3 linked regions of the Homo sapiens genome follow. The protein of the gene in region 1 purifies or fractionates together with the protein of each later gene. This does not show direct contact. Each region holds a gene or a part of one and is shown in the gene's direction. Other genes may lie near its edges.

Region 1 (3,669 bases):
CTCCAAGTTGTTCTGCATAGTGATTTTACTGATTTACATTCCCAACAAAGTGTACAAGGGTTCCCTTCTGTTCACGTCTTCACTAGCATTTGTTATTGCCTCTCTTTTAGATATAAGCCACTTTAACATACACATCTTAATTAAGCTAAGTGCACGAAAATAATGGAATCGACGTATCTTACAAGACATAACATACGATATTATGCAACCAATAACAGTCTCTGTCTTTCTGCCTGCCTGCCTGCCCTCCTTTCTAACTTCCTTCTCTCTTCCTTCTTTCATTCTTATTTATTTATTTATATTGTTTTTGAGATGGGGTCTTGCTCTGTCGCCCAGGCTGGAGTGCAGTGGCGCAATCTCAGCTCACTGCAACCTCCACCTCGCGGGTTCAAGCGATTCTCCTGCCTCAGCCTCCCTAGTAGCTGGGACTACAGGCACGCACCATCATGCCCAGCTAATTTCTTTTTTGGGGGTTTTGTTGTTGTTGTTGTTGTTTGTTTGTTTTTTTTGAGACAGAGTCTCGCTCTGTCACCCAGGCTGGAGTGCAGTAGCACAATCTCAGCTCACTGCAACCTCTGCCTCCGGGGATCAAGTTATTATCTTGCCTCAGCCTCCCAAGTAGCTGGGATTACAGGTGTGCACTACCACGCCTGGCTAATTTTTTGTAGTTTTAGTAGAGACAGGGTTTTGCCATGTTGACCAGGCTGGACTTCTTTTTTTTTTTTTAAACAGAGTTTCACTCTTGTTGCCCAGGCTAGAGTGTGGTGGCACAAATCAGCACACTGCAACCTCTGCCTCCCAGGTTCAAGCAATTCTCCTGCCTCAGCCCCTCAAGTACCTGGATTACAGGCACCTGCCACCACGCGCAGCTAATTTTTTGTATTTAGTAGAGACAGGATTTCGCCATGTTGGCCAGGCTGTTCTCGAACTCCTGACCTCAGGTGATTCACCCACCTCAGCCTCCCAAAGTGCTGGAATTACCACCGTGCCCAGCTGGCAGGCTGGTCTTGAACTCCTGGCCTCAAGTGATCAACCCGTCTCAGCCTCCCAAAGTGCTGGGATTACAGGCATAAGCCACCACGCCCAGCCTGGACTCATTTTTGAAAGACATTAGATTTGCCAGGCCCAGGTTTGCTGTGTGTTTTGTGTATTTCACTATTTCGCTTATTTATGGGACCCCACTTAGCTCTTTCCTGATCATTCCCAGACCATGGAAGATAGAAGTGTCCTGCTGTCTGCAGATAGTTTATGTGTAGCCACAGGAATGCTCAAGAATATATAGACCTCTAGTCATATAACTGTGCTTATTATACTTCCTTCATGCCACAGGCCTGCAGCTGTAGATTCTGTCATGCTTCATTACCTCCTTCCTCCAGTACCCTTCTTCATCTCCTCCAATGTCCTTGGCCGAGTGCAGTGGCTCAGGCCTGTAATCCCAGTGCTTTGGGAGGCTGAGGCAGGAGGATCACTTAAGACCAGGAGTTTGAGGCCAGCCTGGGTAACATAGTGAGATTCTGTCTCTACCAAACAAAATATTAAAAATCAAAATTAGGCTGGGTGCAGTGACTCACGCCTGTCATCCCAACACTTTGGGAGGCCAAGGCGGGCGTATCATGAGGTCAGGAGTTCAAGATTGACTAACATGGTGAAACCCCATCTCTACTAAAAATATAAAAATTAGCCAAGTGTGGCGGCGCACACCTGTAATCCCAGCTACTCAGGAGGCTGAAGCAGAAGAATTGCTTGAACCCAGGAGGAAGAGGTTGCAGTGAGCCAAGATCGTGCCACTGCACTCCAACCTGGGTGACAGAGCGAGACTCTGTCTCAAAAAAAAAAAAAAATTCTTCATCTTCTCATTAAGATATTTCCTGGATAAATTAGCTTGTCAAAACCTGACCCTACTCATCAATTTTAACCTCATTTAAAATGGGTCAGGTGGGCTGGGCACGGGGCTCACGCATGTAATCCCAGCACTTTGGGAGGCTGAGGCGTGCAGATCATGAGGTCAGGAGATCGAGACCAGCCTGACCAACATGATGAAACCCCTTCTCTACTAAAAATACAAAAAATTAGCCGGGCACAGTGGCACGCGCCTATGGTCCCAGCTATTCGGGAGGCTGAGGCAGGAGAATCACTTGAACCCAGGAGGCGGAGGTTGTGGTGAGCTGAGATCGTGCCATTGCACTCTAGCCTGGGCAACAAGAGCAAAACTCTGTCTCAAAAAAAAAAAGAGAAAAGAAAAAAAATTGAGAACACTGGGGCAATTAGAATTTAATCTGTTGACTGGGAAATTATTGATACTTTTATTAAGTATGATAATGATATTCTGATTATTATGTGTTTTTCTAAGAGAAGTTGTTGATAATCTGTTGGATACTAAAGTATCTGTGGGTGAAGTATTATGATGTTTGGCATGTGGGATTTGCCTCACAGTACATGGGGAATAAAAGATAGAAGGGAAGAGATAAAACAGGGTACACCTTGTTAACTGTTGAAGCAGACTGGTGCATATCGGGGGGCCATTACTGTCAACTATTCTCTGTACTTTTGTGCATCTTGAAAATTTTCATAATAAATGAAAAAAGTTTCTTAATGTACACTAATGCGTGGGTTTATTGTTTCAGGGACTGGTGACATTCAGGGACGTGGCCATAGAGTTCTCTCTGGAAGAATGGAAGTGCCTGGAACCTGCTCAGAGGGACTTGTACAGGGAGGTGACTCTGGAGAACTTTGGTCACTTGGCCTCACTAGGTAAGGAGATTGTATCACACGGGCCAGACGGAAAGCAAGGCAACAGGGACTACAACCATGGGGTGCAGTTTCCATCTCTGCCTAAATGGGTGAGGAGAGGAAACTGTCACAGGAGACGCTACAAACTACAGCCATAGAGAGAGGCCCGGCCAGCAATAGCTGTAGCTACTTCCAGAGCTCCTGGGTCAAAGGAGGGAGAGAGGAGGGTAAGAAATGCCTGGTGCTCTCTCTCCTCCTGTCCACTGATCTCCAGCTGATGCTTTCTGTCTGCCAAAGCCAATGAGAAGCCATAGGGCATGGGTAATGCAGTCCTTACGGTGAGCTGTCGGGATCCCAGAGCTGGGCACAGAACAAGGCCAGGAGCATCAAGGAATAGATTGGAGGGGAAGGAGGGGTTCATGGAGAGTGATCACCACACATTTACTCCACATAATTCAGGACTACCCTTCTGGAATTTCTGGTTTCTTCATTATGAATTTCTAGGGCAACTTACAAGTTTCTGACTGAATTTCTGGTGACTGAAAAATTGTTTTGTGCTTTGTGGAACTAGAAACAAGTCATTCTGCTGGGCAGCTCGGTCTTCCTATCCTTTGGACAACCTTCCACCTACCTTGTAATTGCGTCTTTTCCATGGTGACCAGGGAACTGGGTTTGGATTTTGGAGCGGTCTGATCACACCCCATTTCTTTTCCTGTAAACAGGACTCTCCATTTCTAAGCCTGATGTCGTCTCCTTATTGGAGCAAGGGAAAGAGCCCTGGATGATTGCAAATGATGTGACAGGACCATGGTGCCCAGGTAAGCGAGGGCCGATTTCGACAGGGGAAGGTCCCTGGATGAGTCGACTGACAGGAGTAACTTGAGTTACTGTGGGAAGTTCCCTCAAAGCCCTACTGTGGAAGAAAGGCCTGAAACGTGA
Region 2 (3,669 bases), on another chromosome or scaffold:
CTTAATTTTGCATTTTCTGTCTCTTCTACACCTCTGCATTCCTCCACTAGTGCTTGGCCTCCAGTATGCCTTCAATACATGTTGAAAGAAATGATTGCTAAATCTAGCGCTGCGTGCTGAAAGTGCTGTAATGAAGCAGTGCTTTCCCCTTAGTTGAGCCAGGTGTGTCTAGCTACGTAAGCTAAACCTACTGGTACAGATGCTAGTTTTTTGGGCTGTGTTTTTACAGAGCTTTGTGTTTATATTATTTGATTCAGTAAGTGAGGATCCTGTTTTCTCTTGGAGACAAAGTATCAGAAAAGCAAATCAATGAGAAACATTTATCATCTGCTTGATTTGTTATTTTTCTTTTGAAAATCATTATTCATATGTGTAACTTATTATTTCCCCTTTCTTATGCCTTTGTTTTTCTAGTTTGCTTTGAGTGATTAGCCAACCATTCTTCTCTCTCTCTCTCTCTCTCTTTTTTTTGTTCCAGTGACTCTCCCACCTCAGCCTCCAAGTAGTTGGGGCCACAGGCATGTGCCACCACACCTGGCTAATTATTTTTTGCAGAGACAGGGTCTCCCTGTATTTCCCAGGCTGGTTTCGAACTCCTGGCTTAAGTGATCCTCTTGCCTTGCAAGGCATTCTTTTAGTGTTTACTTCTTTCATAATACCTATGTGTTTTTGTGATGTACAGAGTATTTGTTTAGCTTTCAGAAAGTTACCATTATTTATATATTCTTCATATCTGATAAGATAGGTATACATACCCTAGTTTTTAGAAAATAAGAACTCTATGTCTGTTGATTAACAGTGGGAATTTACATTTTATTGTTTAAAAGCGGATATGGGTAACTCAAGACTGACTAGCTGAAGTGAGTTTTCTTTAATCGTTTCCTTCTGTAGACTGGAATGCAGTGGCTTTTATTTGATATGTGTATTTTACTTTTGGGTAACCATAGGGAAGAACAATTACTGCATTTTCTTTTTATATGTTTGGCACTTGCAATTATTTACGTGAAACAAAGCATTCCTATCTAAATGTATTGACTGATTAATAATAATGTTTTAGTTTATTCTTTTTATCTACTCTTTAACCAACATCTCCTCACTTCCCCCAATAATGTTTTTTGATTTGGTAAGAACTAACAAGAGCTCAGGCTTTGATGTTAAGATAGCGTGGGTGTGAATGCTGGTTTGGTCACTTACCTGCTGTGTGACTGTGGACAGGTTACTTAACCTCTCTAAAATTCAGTGCTTTCAGCTGTCAAACGGGTGATGATAATAGTGCTGGGAGGATTAAATGGGATAATACACATGAACTAACTGCTTAGCATAGAATACAAGATGCTTCTAAAACTGTAGCATACTGCTTGGCACAGAGTAAGTACAGTACTCCAAAAATGTTCTTATTATGTTTGTATTTTATATTTTGAGGTAGACTTAGATTTGGTTTTATCTTTTGTATTTAAACAAGGACTTATCAGATACCTCTCAAGACTTCAGTTTCTTATGTAAAACTGCCTATTCTGAAACTTGTGAAAATGTTCATGGTATTAAGTGATATGTTAAGTTTTAGATAGGTATATATTCAACAAAACCTGCTGAACTTACGTATCGACAGAGCCAGGCATGGTCCTAGCAGTCCTTCAAGGCTTTTATACTTGCTGTTTCACCTGCTTGGAGTACTTTATCCATGGATTGCTTTCTCCCTCATTTCATTCAATTTCTGCTTAAATGTTACCTTAACAGAGTTGGAGAGGCTTTTGCTAACACCCTATTTAAACTAGCACCCCATACTCTGTCACTCTGTCTCTTTACCCTATTTTACATTTGTTCTTAGCCTGACTTATTATGTGTGTATATATGTATAATGTGTTTCTTTGTTTCACGACATAAGCTCCGTGAGAACCTTTTTGTTTGATCTTTGTATCCCCGGGGTCTAGAATGGTACCTGGCACATAGTAAGAGCTGAGTGAATTTTTGTTGTTTTTTGATAGAAATAAAGCACTTTTTCTGTTCTCAGTGAAACAGATGTGTAAATGCATTGTTTTCTTCAATATAATAGTTTGAAAGGACAACCTGTAGAGTTTGAGGAACATTGTTTTGTGCAGGAGACAGCAATGTTGTGGTGCCACTGTATATCCTTACCTTTTTAGTACTGTCAAGCAGTGTCATATGTGGATGGTTTTATTTTTTTGGTTTGGAATAGCGGTCAGTCAGGTTTAAAATCTAGAATAAGTAATTATATTTTCACTAACATGGTTTTAACCTTTTAAAATCTTAGATATTTTTGAAGATTATGCTTCTCCCACCACAGCAGCCCAGACTCTCTTATATACTGCTGCAAAGAAAAGAAAAGAGGTATTTCATTTTTCTTTTTAAATCCAAAACTGAAAGGTGGCCTGTGTTGAGTTGATACTCTAGTATATCCCTAGTATTTGAGAAATTATGTTGTTATTCGTTATAATTTGTCACCTTAAGGATTTTTTTTTTCCTCTCCTGGTGAGGGGAAAGGGGGTATCATGGTTATTTCGTTTTCTTAATAAATTATACTTTTCTTATTGAGCTTATAGTTGCTTGATAAAACATAATAAAATGGCTTTATTTTTAAAAATTTGTGCATCATAGTTAATACTATAGTAAGACAATGAAAGTTCATGTAGACTAAATGGATTCTTCTGTTTCTTTAGGTGTTGCCAAAAATGATGGCATTCTGTTATCAAATCCTGACAGACCCGAACTTTGACCCTAGGAAGAAAGATGGAGCCCTGCATGTGATTGGTTCCCTAGCTGAGATTTTACTGAAGGTTAAGATAATCAAAATTTAATTTACTTAATAACATTGTAAAGTACAGGCAAATGAGAGAATATGAAAGTTATGGCTAATTTAAAGCTGGTGACTACCTCTGGATAATTGAGTTCACAACTATCCTCCTTTCTGTCATCTATTTCTTTAATTAAAAAGAAAATTTGACTGTTTAAAGTTTTCAGTATGAAACTATTGATATGTGAAAGGGATACAAAGTATCTTATGTCTACAAAATCAATCAATATCAAACTGATATAAGGTAATATTTGTCTTGTTTTAAAACATGCAATATATAGGTCAAATAATTTTACAAAATTAGAAGTATATTAAATGCAAGTCATAGTAAACACACTTGATTAGGAAGTGATTCTTACGTATGAAAAAGAAATTGATAAGTTGAAATTTGTTTCCTAATAGAAGAGTTTATTCAAGGACCAAATGGAGCTGTTTCTACAAAATCATGTATTTCCATTATTATTGTCTAACCTGGGATATCTTCGAGCTAGAGTAAGTTTTTCATATTTCTGTTATGTATCTTAAATCTTCATAAGATAATTATTCAAATAAATGTTTTTTGGATAAATTGACCTTTTGCCACATATTGAGATGAAATAGAGTCAATTAGAATGTCTGCCTATGGTCACATCAGCTGAATAAAGGACAGACTATTAAAGAAAAAGATTTATAGGCTGGGCGCAGTGGCTCATGCCTGTAATCCCAGCACTTTGGGAGGCTGAGGTGGGCGGATCACTTGAGATCGGGAGTTTGAGACCAGCCTGGCCAACATGGTGAAACCCTGTCTCTACAAAAATACAAAAAATTAGCTGGGCTTCATGGCAGGCGCCTGTTATCCCAGCTACTAGGGAGGCTGA
Region 3 (3,669 bases), on another chromosome or scaffold:
GACCTCAGGTGATCCACCCGCCTCTGCCTCCCAAAGTGTTGGGATTACAGGCATGAATCACAGCGCCCGGCTGCTAAATGATTTCTAATAAAAAAGTTTTTTTTTAAAGTTCCTAGTTGGAGGTCAGATGCGGTGGCTCACGCCTGTAATCCAGCACTTTGGGAGGCCGAGGTGGGCGGATCACAAGGTCGGGAGTTCGAGACAAGCCTGATCAACATAGTGAAACCCCGTCTCTACTGAAAATATGAAAAATTAGCCGGGTGTGGTGGTGGGTGCCTGTAATCCCAGCTACTTGGGAGACTGAGGCAGGAGAATCACTTGAACCCGGGAGGCGGAGGTGCAGTGAGCCAAGATCACGTCATTGCATTCCAGCCCGGGCAACAGTGCAAGACTCTGCCTCAAAAAAAGAAAAATAAAATAAAAGTTCTGGCCGGGCATGGTGGCTCACGCCTGTAATCCCAGCACTTTGGGAGGCTGAGGTGGGTGGATCATGAGGTCAGGAGATCGAGACCATCCTGGCTAACATGGTGAAACCCCATTTCTACTAAAAATACAGAAAATTAGCTGGGCATGGTGGTGGGTGCCTGTAGTTCCACCTACTCAGGAGGCTGAGGCAGAATGGCATGAACCTGGGAGGCAGAGCTTGCGGTGAGCAGAGATCACACCACTGCACTCCAGCCTGGGCGACAGCAAGACTCCATCTTAAAAAATAAAATAACATAAAACTTCCTAGTTGGAAAGCATAAAAATAATATTTTAAAATTATTTTTATTGTTATTATTTTTTGAGACAGGGTTTCACACTGTTACCCAGGCTGGAGTGCAGTAGTATGAACATGGCTCACGGCAGCCTTGACTCTCCTGGGATTAAGCTATCCTCCTGCCTTAGCCTCCCAACTAGCTGGGACTACAGGCGTGCACCACCACACCTGCCTAAGTTTTTTATTTTTTGTAGAGACGAGGTCTGTCTTTGTTGCCCAGCCTTGACTCCCAAGTGCTAGAATTACAGGTGCGAGTCACTGCACTTGGCTTATTACTGTTTTTTTAACAAAGGCAGAGGGACGCAGTGAAGAGCCTTAGCCTTGTCCTGAGTCTACGACTATAATGACTTAACCTCACTATGCCTTATATTTCATGTAGCCAAGGTAGATGTCATATTTGCCTTTGTCAAATTCTTTTTTTTTTTTTTTTTTTTTTTGAGACGGAGTTTCGCTCTTGTTGCCCAGACTGGAGTGCAATGGCACAATCTCGGCTCGCCACAACCTCCGCCTCCCGGATTCGGGCAATTCTCCTGCCTCAGCCTCTTGAGTAGCTGGGATTACAGGTATGCATTACCACGTCCGGCTAATTTTGTATTTTTAGTAGAGACGGGGTTTCTCCATGTTGGTAGGCTGGTCTCGAACTCCCGAGATCCGCCCACCTTGGTCTCCCTAAGTGCTGGGATTACAGGTGTGAGCCACTGTGCCCGGCTTGTCAAATGCTTTAGTAACAAGAAAGGTTAGAAGTTCCTTGGCTCTTGAAATTACCTGGTTGTATTTAATGTAAAAATCTGATAGCACGGGATTCTTCTACCTCCTGTGTTCCTTAAAAATGGTCTGAAGTATAGTAGCTAATTGAAAGTCTCTTTGGTTATATTTCAATGGAGAGAAATAATACAAAGTTACAGTTTTGGCCGGGTGCGGTGGCTCAGGCCTGTTATCCCAGCACTTTGGGAGGCCAAGGTGGGTGGATCATCTGAGGTCAGGCGTTTAAGACCAGCCTGGTCAACATGGCAAAACCCTGTCTCTACTAAAAATACAAAAATTAGCCGGGCATGGTGTTGCGTGCCTGTAATCCCAGCTACTCAGGAGGCTGAGGTATGAGAACCGCTTGAACCTGGGAGGCAGTGGCTGAAGTGAGCCAAGATTGCTCCACTGCACTCTAGCCTGGGCGACAGCAAGACTCTGTCTCAAAAAAAAAAAAAAAAAAAGTTACGGGTTTGAAGAGTATGTTTTAAAAGATACTGACATTAGTGATTACATTGGAAAATGTGGGTCCAGAGGGAAAACTGATTTTGAAGACATGAGTTACATACAGAGTGTCTAGTTTGAGGAGCTGGTAAACATCAAGTAGAAAAAGTCTAGCAGGCAATTGGAATGTGGAGCTGAAGTTTAGGAGAGAAAGCAGCAATGGAAAAGTGATATTCTTCTGCAGGCAGGTGATTACAGTAGTATGATCCAAAGGTATGGGATGGACTAGAGGGCTAAACTTTCAACCATGCCTATTTTGGGTACTTTGATAAACATCTGAAAAAGCAGACTGGAGATTTTGGGCATAAAAGTAAGAGAGAAGCCAAGAAAGATAATTTTAAGAAGGTTGCTTGTGGTTAGTGGTTAGTTTCCTTTTTCTTTTTCTTTTTTTCTTGAGACGGAGTCTCACTGTTGCCCAGGCTGGAGTGCAGTGGCACAGTGACAGCTCACTGCAACCTCCGTCTCCTGGGTTCAAGCAGTTCTCCTGCCTCAGCCTCCCTAGTAGCTGGGATAACAAGGCAACCACCACCACGTCCGGCTAATTTTTTTATATTTTTAGTAGAGAAGGAGTTTCATCACGTTGGCCAGGCTGGTCTCGAAGTCCTGACCTCAGGTGATCCACCCTCCTCGGCCTCCCAAAGTGTTGGGATTACAGGCGTGAGCCACCACACCAGGCCTAATTTCCTTTTTCTTACATAGATTTAATAAATTCTCTACCAAAGAGCATGAATTACTTTTGAAAATGAGTAAAAAATTTTTAGAAAAAAGAAAGGGGTGTTGATACTCCTAAATGAGAGAGGTTAAACAAACTGAAGACTTTCTGGGAAAATGCATTAAAGTATCAGTAACCTTGGAAAAGTAATTTCTAATTTTTTTCTTTTAATTTTTTTATTTTTTTGAGACAGTCTCTCTCTGTCTCCCAGCTGTAGTGCAGTGGTGCTATCTCGGCTCACTGCAACTTCTGCCTCCCAGGTTCAAGTGATTATCCTGCCTCAGCCTCCCAAGTAGCTGGGACTACAAGCGTGCGCCACCACGCCCAGCTAATTTTTGTATTTTTAGAGATGGGTTCCACCATGTTGGCCAGGATGGTCTCCATCTCTTGACTTCGTGATCCGCCCTCCTCGGCCTCCCAAAGTGCTGGGATTGCAGGCGTGAACCATCGCCCCCAGCCTTTTAATTTTTAAAATTATTATTAATTTTCCACGCAGTCAGAGGGGAAAGCAATTTCTGATTACAGTGTTAGTGAGTGGAATGCTAGTAAGGGGGCAGGGATAAGATTGTAAGTTAAAAGGGTGGCCATATTGGGAAATTCGTTGATGTGAGAGTGTGCGTTTTTCTTTTTCTATTTTTTAAAGTTGAGCTTATTTTGGGTGGCAGAGAAAGCAGCAGGGAAGCTTGGCTGTATAGTAGAATAGGGGCCTAGGTTTTTGAGGCCTGTTGCTACTACCTGTTGTACTAATAGTTTTTCATTCATGTTTTATAGTCATCATTCCTTGAATTACATTCTTCATTACATTCTTCACAGTGCTTCAAGAACTCATTTTCCTATAGCATAAATCTGATCATGTATAACCCTTCACAAAAAATTCATACTCTTTAAATTTTTTGGCCACAACCTACCAATTCATTTTTATCTTTCACTGTTCAAAGTCTTCTCTGAT

The links.
Region 2: the proteins of ZNF565 (region 1) and IPO8 purify together in Homo sapiens (co-immunoprecipitation; one large-scale study listed by IntAct). This does not show direct contact.
Region 3: the proteins of ZNF565 (region 1) and IPO7 purify together in Homo sapiens (co-immunoprecipitation; one large-scale study listed by IntAct). This does not show direct contact.

The regions. Positions count from the first base shown.
Region 1 is NC_000019.10:36,194,112-36,197,780, reverse strand, and holds part of ZNF565 (zinc finger protein 565), read left to right. Parts: intron 1-2,624; coding exon 2,625-2,751; intron 2,752-3,452; coding exon 3,453-3,548; intron 3,549-3,669. UniProt on the Homo sapiens protein: May be involved in transcriptional regulation.
Region 2 is NC_000012.12:30,664,855-30,668,523, reverse strand, and holds part of IPO8 (importin-8), read left to right. Parts: intron 1-2,272; coding exon 2,273-2,349; intron 2,350-2,678; coding exon 2,679-2,795; intron 2,796-3,214; coding exon 3,215-3,304; intron 3,305-3,669. UniProt on the Homo sapiens protein: Involved in nuclear protein import, either by acting as autonomous nuclear transport receptor or as an adapter-like protein in association with the importin-beta subunit KPNB1.
Region 3 is NC_000011.10:9,390,998-9,394,666, forward strand, and holds part of IPO7 (importin-7), read left to right. Parts: intron 1-3,669. UniProt on the Homo sapiens protein: Functions in nuclear protein import, either by acting as autonomous nuclear transport receptor or as an adapter-like protein in association with the importin-beta subunit KPNB1.